2 separate regions of the Homo sapiens genome follow, and region 1 is linked to region 2. The links come from fine-mapping of genetic effects on gene expression. A gene starts in region 2. The other region holds a variant in brackets. All regions are shown on one strand. Distances are between the middles of the regions. Region 1 overlaps ICA1L (islet cell autoantigen 1 like). Region 2 holds the start of CARF (calcium responsive transcription factor).

Region 1 (5,383 bases), 140 kb before region 2:
TTCTGGTGGGTTTTTAATTCACCTGGCTTTTTTGAGGGAAAGACTTATATAGTTGGTTTTTTGCTCAGGCTGGAGTGCAGTGGGCAATCGCGGCTCACTGCAAGCTTCACCTCCTGGGTGCAAGCGATTCTCCTGCCTCAGCCTCCCCAGTAGCTGGGATTACAGGCGCCTGCCACCAGGCCCGACTAATTTTTGTATTTTTAGTAGAGACGGGGTTGCACCATGCTGGCCAGGCTGGTCTCAAACTCTCGACCTCAGGCAATCTGCCTGCCTCGGCCCTCAAAGTGCTGGGATTACAGGCTTGAGCCACCTCACCCGGCCTATAATTGGTTTTTAAATCTCTGTGACTTGGCATGCCCATTTAAGAGAGAGGGGACAGTAAAATCATCCGGATCACAATTCAAATGTGTGCTTGAAGGCACTACAAAAAAATAACCAAAAATATGTTAGTAGTGGTTATTCCTAGATGGTAGTGCTATGGCTGATTTTTTTCTTTCAGAAGATATTACTTTAAAATGGGAAAAAAGAAACAACTTTTTATTTTTTTAAATTTTTTATGAGAAAGTGTCAACATCTTTATTGCTAATATAAGCATTTAATGTCAAAGAAATGAAGGTAATTTTACAAACTAAATTTTTGTAAGTACATGAAATTTCTATTTGATTATGTGGTTTTATATCACATTCGTTCAAATGCATTTCTTTCCCTTAGAGGGACTATTCCAACATCACTCCTTTGGAATTATTTCAGTCATCCCTAACATGTGACTACCAAAGACCTTGAAGCTAAACAAACAAAGAAAACAAAATTTCAATGACTCTTAGATGAATGGAATAAGAAGTAGTCATCACATGTCAATTAGGGATGTTTATCTCCAACAAGACACTGTCAAAATGTTTCTTCTGATAAAGCAGTTATGTCAGAGCCTTCAAAAAACACGGGCAGAACAAGAGTACAATAAAAGAAGCGTCTGCAACTTAAGCCGTCCACAGTCCTAAGCCTGATATGCTCAAAGCAAAGCCTCTTTCCCACAAACTAAATTCCATCCATTTGAGCTTTCAGAGATAGATGCCCAAGAGCTATCATTAATATATACAGCATATTGACTCTAGTTGCATCAGTTATGCATGAAGAGTTTAATAACCATCCAGGTCCAAAGGTGGAAGAATACATACACCGGTATGGTAATAGGCAAGAGCAGGCTGTAAAAGCAAAGGCTAGCTGTGCAAGTGCAGCCCTGTGGGAAGTTTTCTTCTACAGAGGCTGAGTGGAACAGTCCTGCTAAATAAACCAGTGGAATAAGAACAGTCAACGTAGAAAGAGACAGAAAGATTCTTCTCTTCCGCTTATTACTTGCCACTGTGTTTTAAAAGGTATATGGTACTAAGAAGAGTTGGCTGTTTTATTTTTTTAAATTATGAACTAGCGCTGCTCCACTTCTTGCTTCTTTGATGTGTCATCCTAGCTGCCTAATATGATAATATTAGGAATCCCATCAATGATTGGATAAGCTATTCTCAACTCTTCATTAATCAATTCATTTGTTGATGCTTCATATCTGAGCGGCTTCTTGGAGAGCGGGCACACCAGGAACTCCAGCAGCGCCGGATCGAAGGCGCGGGGCGGCTCCTGAGTCTTCTCGCTCCTGTCGGCCAAAGGCCGTGACCCCGACGCGTGCAGGCACCTACGGGCGACCGCGGACGGCGGCGCGCGCGTTCCCCGCAGCGCTGAGGCGAGCCTGCCGCGCGCTCCGCTCAGCGTGGTCTGGCAGCCGGAGACCAGGCCTCACTGCGCCTCCAACAGCCAGGGTCGAGCCCCTGGCTCCCCGTTCGTCCAGGCCAGCTCAAGAAACAACTTTTTCTTTCATGTTTTTTGTATGTGTTTTTTTAGGTTATGGTCAGTGAGGTTTAGCCACAAGAGATATCACAGGAGAGACACAGGAAAAAAAGTTGTAATATACTCACAGGTCCTAGAGAGACCAGTCACTGCATGCTGAGAGGGGGTCACATGGGAGGGGGCTCAGCCAAGCAGGTGGGGAGCGGAGAGGCCTAAGACATGGGCAGGAGCCTTTGGGTCAGGGAGAAGCACACAAGAAAAAGAGAATTTCACTGGTGCATTTAAATGTTACTAGGTCATGGGCAAGGTAGCAAGGGAAACTTGTGGCAGGGGCCACCCATATCACACTGGGCCAGGTGCTCACAGCCTGTTTGTGGAGATGTTGAGGCAGCAAGAAAACCGGAAGTTTAAAACGTACACTACAAATGTAAAAACATACACTGCAAAATCTCACCCACAACACCAGTCAGAACTTCATCTCCTTTTTGTATTTACTCTTTGGCCAATGAGTAGTTAATTTACACCACTGAGTGAAGAACCATGTTTTGACTTTAAATGCCAAGGACAGTTTGTTTTGAACTCTTTAGTAGTCTTTTAAATGGTACAGAAAAAGATGGAAAAATAGCTTATGTTGGGCTTCTGGATGTGACCCATCTTTACCAACCATTTTTCTTATCTTGTCCCTTAGTTTTCTTTGCCATGTTTAAGCACTTTACTGTTGCATGAAATGCATTACTTTCAGTTCTACTAAATTAATATTTTAAAGTTCGTTTTTCCTTCCTAATTTCTATATTCCAAAATTCTGGGACTGCTTCATTGCTCAAGGTAGAGAAATGCAGGGCCCTGCCAACACTATGGAAGACAAAAATAACTGAATCAATTCTGGCTCTCTTCTTTTTATTCCTGCCTTCAATAAGTCAGGTTACATACTATGGCTTATATTTAATTGTTTGTGTCTAGGCTCAGATTTTTGATATTTGTTAGTTTTTGTTACTGAAAGTATTTACATAAATAACGTACATTATATTATTTCCCATATCTTACATAGTCCCCTTGTATATGAAATAAGAACGAATTCATCTCACAAGGATTTTCTTTTGAGACGGAGTCTCACTCTGTCACCCAGGCTGGAGTGCATGGCCTGATCTCAGCTCACTGCAACCTCCACCTCCCGGGTTCAAGCGATTCTCCTGCCTCAGCCTCCCAAGTAGCTGGGATTACAGGCATCTGCCACCATGCCCAGCTAATTTTTATATTTTTCATAGAGATGGGGTTTCACCATGTTGGCCAGGGTGGTCTCAAACTCCCAACTTCAAGTGATCTGCCTGCCTTGGCCTCCCAAAGTGCTGTTATATAGGCGTGAGCTACCGCGCCTGGCCTTACAAGGATATTAATTGCCCTGGTTTTATTTTCGTTCTCCCATGTCCGTATCAACTCAATGTACTTTCCTAATACTATGATCTTGAGGTAAAACCCAAGTTTTTGAATAGGAAAACAATAATTGTACTAAAAACTTCAGGAAACAAACTCTTGTTTTATGCCTTCTTGCAATCTTTATTAAAAGAGGCTCAGAAA[AATAG/A]ATAGAGCACATGTAAACTTCCTTCGTTCTAATGCTGTAAGACCTCTACATTTCTAGATGGTCTATACAGATACGTGAAATATTTATAGTTAAAATACAAAACACTTTTTCAGTGTGCAAATACTGAAACCTGTTTGTTGAAATACAGTTTGTTTCTAATCATATCAAGGTTCTACAATTAATGAAGGATTTCAAAAACATACAAAATTACACCAATCTGATCTTATTATGCCCTGGTATTCCTGCGTCTCCTAAAAAATGGTTGTAGACACACTAGGCAAAGTTTAGCTCGTCTGGTTTTTTTTAGACTTAAAACACATTTTTATCCAGTATAACATAAAGTATAGATATTTCTCCCCATTTAACATAAAAAATATCTATTTTGAGGGTTGTTCTCAGCCTACCATTGGTTAAGGATAATTAATTTACTTCTTATTGAATGGATTATCTAGATTGAGACAAAAAGCAACCAGTCATTCTCTGTTCTGTGCTTATCCCGTCCTTTCCCTCGTTTCTTCAGTGTGGTGGTTTTTTATATTAGCAGTATTGGTTTAATAGAGCAAAATTTCTTTCTGACCACAAAAACTGCTGAGCTTCAAATAACTAATCTTGAGAAAATACGAATGTGGTTACCTTCATCTTAATATAGTTACTGATATGCTCTTCAAAAACAGTGGTTGGACTTGTTGGAAGTTAGAACTGGACTTGCTAAGGAAGTTAATGTTGCTCTGGGTTAAATGGGAAACATATACTCTGTTGAAAGAAGAAATGTTATAGAAACTAGTAACAGAATAATAAAAGTCCCTTGTATGTCTCCATTTCGGGAGAACTTTTGCTTTTGGAAAATTTAGGGTGTTCCTAGTATGGACTTTGGGTTTCTGCTTTGTCTGCTTGTTAAAGTATCTGTATTCGATAACAGGGACTTCCTTGCACACATGTGAGGGAGATAAATATCTCAGAACTAATGCATTAGCAAGGTGACCACTACAAAGAAAAATGGTACAAACTCTCAAGACATAAAGTTAGCTTTTTTTTTTTTTTTTTTTTTTTTTTTTGAGAGAGTCGCTCTCTGTTGCCCAGGCTGGAGTGTAGTGGTGCAATCTCGACTCACTGCAACCTCTGCCGCCTGGGTTCAAGCAATTCTTCTGCCTCAGCCTCCTGAGTAGCTGGGATTACAGGCATGTACCTCCACACCTGGCTAATTTTTGTATTTTTAGTAGAGACAGGGTTTCACCATGTTGGCCAGGCTGGTCTCGAACTCATGCCCTCAAATGTTCCACCCGCCATGGCCTCCCAAAGTGCTGGGATTACAGGCGTGAGCCACCATGCCCAGCCAAAGTTTTAGCATTTTTTGAGGCACTCAAAAGTTGAGAGCATCAGAGTCACCATGGGTATAGAATTCAGATTGGGATTCGTAATCATGATCTTGGTGATTGGAACTTGGCAGAACAGTGACAGTATTACATTCTGGGAAATTTCACTGAGTATAAAGGAAGACTTAAGTCTTCTGAAGAGATAAGTAATGGCTCATTAAAATCTAAAAGAAATAGGAGTAATATTGTGAAAAGATTTTATGGAAAGACTTCATACCTTTTTTCTGAGTCAATGTTTCTGACCTTCAGATAAGGTCTTTCCAGCCTATACTGTACTTGGCCATTGTAGTAGTTTTCTGGAGAGCCTGTGGGCAGTTACTATTGTAGATGGCTATGGATGGGACATGGACTGCATTTTACCTACTCTGGTCCAATGTTTTCTATGTACCATGACAAACATTACAAGCAATCCTTTTCTAAATAAGCCTGTTTAGAATAGAACTAAGAGCACATGGAAGCTACTGTGAATAACTTAGTTAAAATGTCTTTTTTTTTTTTTTTTTTTTTTGAGACGGAGTCTTGCTCTGTTGCCTAGGCTGGAGTGCAGTGGCGCCATCTCAGCTCACTGCAAGCTCCGCCTCCCGGGTTCACGCCA
Region 2 (5,383 bases):
AAGAAGCCAGTCACAAAAGATCACATTATATAATTCCATTTATTCAAAACGTCCAGAAGAGAGAAAGTTACAGAGCTAGAAAGTAGATCAGTGGTTGCCTAGGGCTGGGGGTATTATTTAACAAACAGCTCAAGGATGATGAAAAATGTTCTAAAATTGACTGTGGTGATGGTTGCACAACTTTGCAAATATGATGCTGATGATCCTCAAACCACACTTTGAGCAATAAGGCTATAGCTATATATTTATGTATATAATTCACATATATGTATATTCTTGTGTGTGTGTGTGACAATTATATTAGCCCCCCGCCTCCATTTTACTGACCATAATATTAAGCAAAAAGAAAAAGCAAGAATTTTATTATTTATTTATTTATTTATTTATTTATTTGAGATAGAGTCTCACTATGTTCCCCAGGCTGGAGTGCAGTTGCATTGATCCTGGCTCACTGCAACCTCTGCCTCTCAGGCTCAAGAGATCCTCCCACCTCAGCCTCCCAAGTAGCTGGGACCACAGGTGGGCACCACCATGCCTGGCAAATTTTTTGTATTTTTGGTAGAGACGGGGTTTCATCATGTTGCTCAGGCTGGTCTCAAACTCCTGAGATAAGCGATTTGCGTTCCTCAGCCTCCCAGACTGTTGGGATTACAGACATGAGCCACAGCACTCGGCAAAGAATTTTAATTTCTACATTTTTTTACCTTTTGGAGGGCCTAAATTCACACACACACATATGACATGTATCCATTCATTTCAGGGGTTAAAACACAGTGGCCTATTATCTCTTACAACTTCATGTGAATCAACAATTATCTCAAGGCTGGACGCAGTGGGTCATGCCTGTAATTCCAGGACTTTGGGAGACCGAGGTGGGCGGATCACTTGAGGCCAGGAGTTCGAGACCAGCATGGCCACCAAGACAAATTCCTGTCTCTACTAAAAATACAAAAATTAGCCAGGCTTGGTGGCACATGCCTGTAATTCCAGCTACTCTGGAGGCTGAGGCGGGAAGATTGTTTGAACCCGGGAGACAGAGGTTACAGTGAGCCAAGATCCCACCACTGCAGTCCAGCCTGGGCAACAGAGTGAGACTCTGTCTCCAAAAAAACCAAACCAAACAAACAAAAAAAAGCCCCACATATTTCAAAAAATTTTATTTTAAGAAAAACAAAAAAACCTACTTTCAATTAAAAAACACAGTGGTTATGTTAATGCATCACCACATTCCTAGAGAAGTATTAAGGCAATGTATGTAAGTAAGTACATATACTCAGGTGCATTGATAATACGATTTATGTATACTTTCAGCAACAACACAAGGGGAGAGAAGATGATTTACTAGCTCTCCTCATAAAGCTACAAACAAAACCACAGATGTAACTCAGGTGGGAGTTTCCTAGTTTATGGCTAACTTTAGCTTATTAACACGACAAATATTATCATTTTCACTGAAAAATTTGACATTTTTTGTTGACTCAGCCAATCCAAGAAGCTTAATTAATATATAGTCCCTGCCCTCAAGAGACTTCCAATATAGTTGGAAGAGACCAGGCAAACACAAAGAAAGCTAACAATGCAATATATACCACAAGGCAGCATATAATTAGTTTTCGAATGAGTGCTAACAGACCTTGAGACCACTGGTTAAAATGTTTATATATCTATATAGATATACATAAATGGTAAATATGTTTTTTCATTTTCAAAAACTTTTTTTCCGTTTTCAAAAACTGTGAACCACCACTAGCAGACACCCTATAACAAGGCCCACTGTTCATTTTTAAATTACACATATAAAATGTTTCATTCAGAAAGCAAACCTGAAGCCCTTCAGCCTCCTCCACACTCACAATTCAAATTATATAGAACCTACGAAGCTGGTTAGAAAGCAGGTAATCTCAGAAAAAAGGGTGGGGGTGACAGCAGAAACAACCAGGGATCCACAAGGTCATACCAAAGGGGTGGTCGGAAAGGAACCTGGGGAAGGGAGAGAAGGCTGGAACGCTTACTTACTTCTTGTTATCAGTGTAGAAGCGTGTTTGGAGCTGAGCCATGGCGAGGAGTACACACGACTTGCCCACGGAAACGTACGGGTTAGCAGACCCACAACACGAAGCTCCTGCCTTTTAAGACTACAAAGAGGCAGCTCAAAATTAGACTGCACAGGTAAGCGAGGAACTGCAGTCTAAGCCTGGACTCTGCCTTCTGCCCTCCGGTCTCCTCTGCAGAAAGCACGAGGTTGCCCTTCTACAGACGCCCAGACCACAAACATCGACTACCTACTCCTAGATTTAGGAGTCATCGATTAGAAAAGGATAGTCGTAAAGGTAGCATGTCCCTTTAATCATTGTTAGAATTCTTCCCATACGTGTGGGCCCGTAATCGATTAGGAAAAAGATCCCACTCAAATCCGCTTTATTAATAAAAAATTTTTTTTCAAGAGGCTGTCCTGAGCCTGGATAGTTCAAACACAGCTCCTAGTTACTACAAGTCTCAGAAAGCATCGCTTCTCAAACGCTGTGACCACCGGGAATTGTAGTCTTTTTTTGCCACGCTGCCCTCAGAGTATCTTATTTGCATTAAATCCTCTAGACTCCAGCCAGATATCAAATTTCCTCTGCCTTCAGCTTTGCTTGACTAACGCCTTGCCAGTTTTTTTTTCTCATACATATTCCCAACCAGAGGCTCACTCGGCAGAGGTTTTTCCTAAATCTCGCCTCTAACTGCGGCTTTTAGAGAGAGGCGAGAGGCGGAAATACAAAGAAAAGAACGGATGAGAGAGGAAACGGTCGACGGTGGCCGATAGTGGTCCTACTGTCGTGGGACTGCTCTGCGCGCTCCCGGTGGGGCGCGCCTGCGCATTATGCTGGTCTCCATGGCGGGGCCTCGGAGCCAAGACGAGGTTGAGTAGACTCGTTTTGAATTTTCTCCCCTCTGCTCCGGCGGACTTCCCATGTCGCCTTGTGGGGCTATCGGCGGCGGCAGGACTGGGGGAGTCAGAGGTCTGGCAGCGCTGTCTGCGCAGACCTACCGGACGCTACCTCCCAACCCCCCGTCTTCCTCCTGCCTCCTCCTCCTCCCGTCACCTCCTGACCCGCCGGAGCTCCGAGCAACTGCCGGCCTCCGCCCCCAGCCGCAGCCGGTCACTGGCGGCGCCTTCCGCGCCAAGCTTGGGGGCCTTTTCGGGGTCCCACATGGCACGGCTTCCGACCCCCGGCCCGGGACGGGGCTCGCAGGCCCCAGAGGGGCAGGCTGGAGAAGGAGGAGGTTAGGTGTCTTCAGGAGGGTTGCTGAGCCCAAGGACGCGCCATCGCCGCGGAGAAGGAGCCGGACCCCTTGGGCGGAGCGCCCAATGTGTGGTCCCTCACGCCGTCCCGCACCTTGCTTTTTAGGGTTCTTTTTCCGCTTTCTGAGCCCTTTTATACCTTACGTTTAGAAGGGGAAAATCATCCTCCCACACCTTCTCCCCGACTTTTTGCCTTTTTTGTCTTGAAGTTACCCAAAGGCCTGTGTATTGTTCTCAATGGTCCCAAGAATTACTCTAATATAGTTGTTTTTCTGAGGGAGGATGGATGGAGATAACTATCCTGATCCCAATGTCACTTTTTAAGGCATTCGCTTCAAGAGACAAGCAGTTTAGAATCAGGCAGAACTGGATTGCAAAATTTATGGGCAGACCGGTATGTGTGCAGGTGAAGACAAAGCTTTCCTTTTTTACGTTGTTTAAAGATGTCCTACTGTAAGGTAGACGCCTAATGTTTAAATGAACGCCTAATATTTAAATAGAGAATGAGAAGAGATTTAAACAATTGGAAGAAAAAATAATTTTTATTAGAGAGCAATGACAATAAAAGTAGGACTCTTTTCAGTTTACTCACCTTTGTAGCTCCGAATCCGGGCCCTGGAACCAGAATTCCTGGGTTCAAATCCTGCCTCTGCTACTTGATTAACCTTTTTGTGCCACACTTTTATCAACTATAAGAATTAACTGCGGCATCGGAAGCACTCAGTATATGTTAATTATTATCATCAAATAGTTACTAATTCCAGTTTAACTAGAAGCTTTGCCAGCGTGAATAGATAAGGGAGAATAGCCACATTGAGTGGAGGAATAAAATTAGAAAACCTCTGTGCTGAAGTCCCAGGAGATCACTTATTAGGCTTGAGCTTGCTAATGGAAGTGGTGATCGTTTAACCATGTGGTTATTGTAGTGGTGAGGATTTACACATTAAATAAGTCTTGGGCATCTGAAGCTTGAAACACTTTCTTAATGAAATCTTGCCGTTGAATCTGTACTTACTGGTAATATGTCATTGGTTAAAATATATTTATAAAATGTATAATTGACCAGCAGGTTAATACATTTTTATCATTAATTTGAAATTTATCAAAATGAGAATATACAGTACCTGACAGTAGAGTTTGATCTTAATTTGATTTGAAAATTATGATCAGGAAAATAACCTGAATATATGCTTAATAATATAAGACTTTCAGTTTGCAAAACAGAAATCCTGACTTGACTAAAATACACTTTTCATTTGACGGAGACCTTTAGTTAAGGAAAGATTAGTTTTAGCATTCAACATAACTAAATACCCAGCATTATGTTTTACGGTTTTTTTCAACAATGATTTATGTGTCGTGTTTGGTGTTGCCTCCAAACAGTACCTAGGATAGCTGATGCTTTTACTTTGAGTCTTTTTCTTTAGTTGGAACATTAATTGCAAGCTTTTGGTTGGTAATCATTTTTTATGGGATGTATTTACTATATGGTCCTCATGGAGACACATTGTTATCTGGAGAACCACAGTTTGGAAAATACATTTCTCTTTATTATAAAGTTTTTTGTTTTATATATATAATGCCACAGTGTGATAGGATACAAAGACTATGCATTAGGGCTTTGGAGTCTTAATTGTTCTTTGTGTTTTTCTTTTTTTCCAATTTGATTATGGATCCAAGCCTAATGCACTCTGTGATCTTAAGCAAGTTTCTTGACAGTTCCAGTTTTCTTATCTACAAACAGAGACAAGAAGATCTACCTCAGAGTCATTGTAAGGATTAAATAAATTTGTAAAGCTCTCAAAGAGCAGCCTAATCCCAGCATTTTGGGTGGCTGAGGCGGGTGGAGCACCTGAGGTCAGGAGTTTGAGACCAGCCTGGCCAACATGGTGAAACCCCGTCTCTGCTAAAAATACAAAAATTGGCCAGGCATGGTGGGGGGTGCCTATAATCCGAGCTACTGGGGAGGCTGAGGCAGGAGAATTGCTTGAACCTGGAAGGTGGAGTTTGCAGTAAGCCAAGATCACGCCACTTCACTCCAGCCTGGGCAAAAAGAGTGAAACTCCATCTCAAAAAAAAAAAACAAACAAAAAA

Evidence for each region. PIP is the estimated chance that this variant, and not a neighbour inherited with it, causes the effect.
Region 1: its variant is fine-mapped to the expression of CARF in whole blood (TOPMed, PIP 0.97).

What each region holds. Positions count from the first base shown.
Region 1 is chr2:202,772,603-202,777,985 of GRCh38, forward strand. It overlaps ICA1L (islet cell autoantigen 1 like), which reads right to left. Exons shown (of 13, transcript NM_001288622.3): 13 at 574-5,383. It also overlaps the pseudogene PIGYP1. Among named protein-coding and RNA genes, the nearest start is that of ICA1L, 96 kb to the right of the region's middle. The variant AATAG/A (reference allele first, on the strand shown) is at 3,412.
Region 2 is chr2:202,909,420-202,914,802 of GRCh38, forward strand. CARF (calcium responsive transcription factor) reads left to right here and starts at 2,856. Exons shown (of 17, transcript NM_024744.17): 1 at 2,856-3,683. WDR12 (WD repeat domain 12) reads right to left here and starts at 2,254. Exons shown (of 13, transcript NM_018256.4): 1 at 2,017-2,254. The coding sequence starts at 2,057. RefSeq lists enhancers at 2,437-2,586, 2,597-2,746, 2,787-2,986, 3,087-3,136.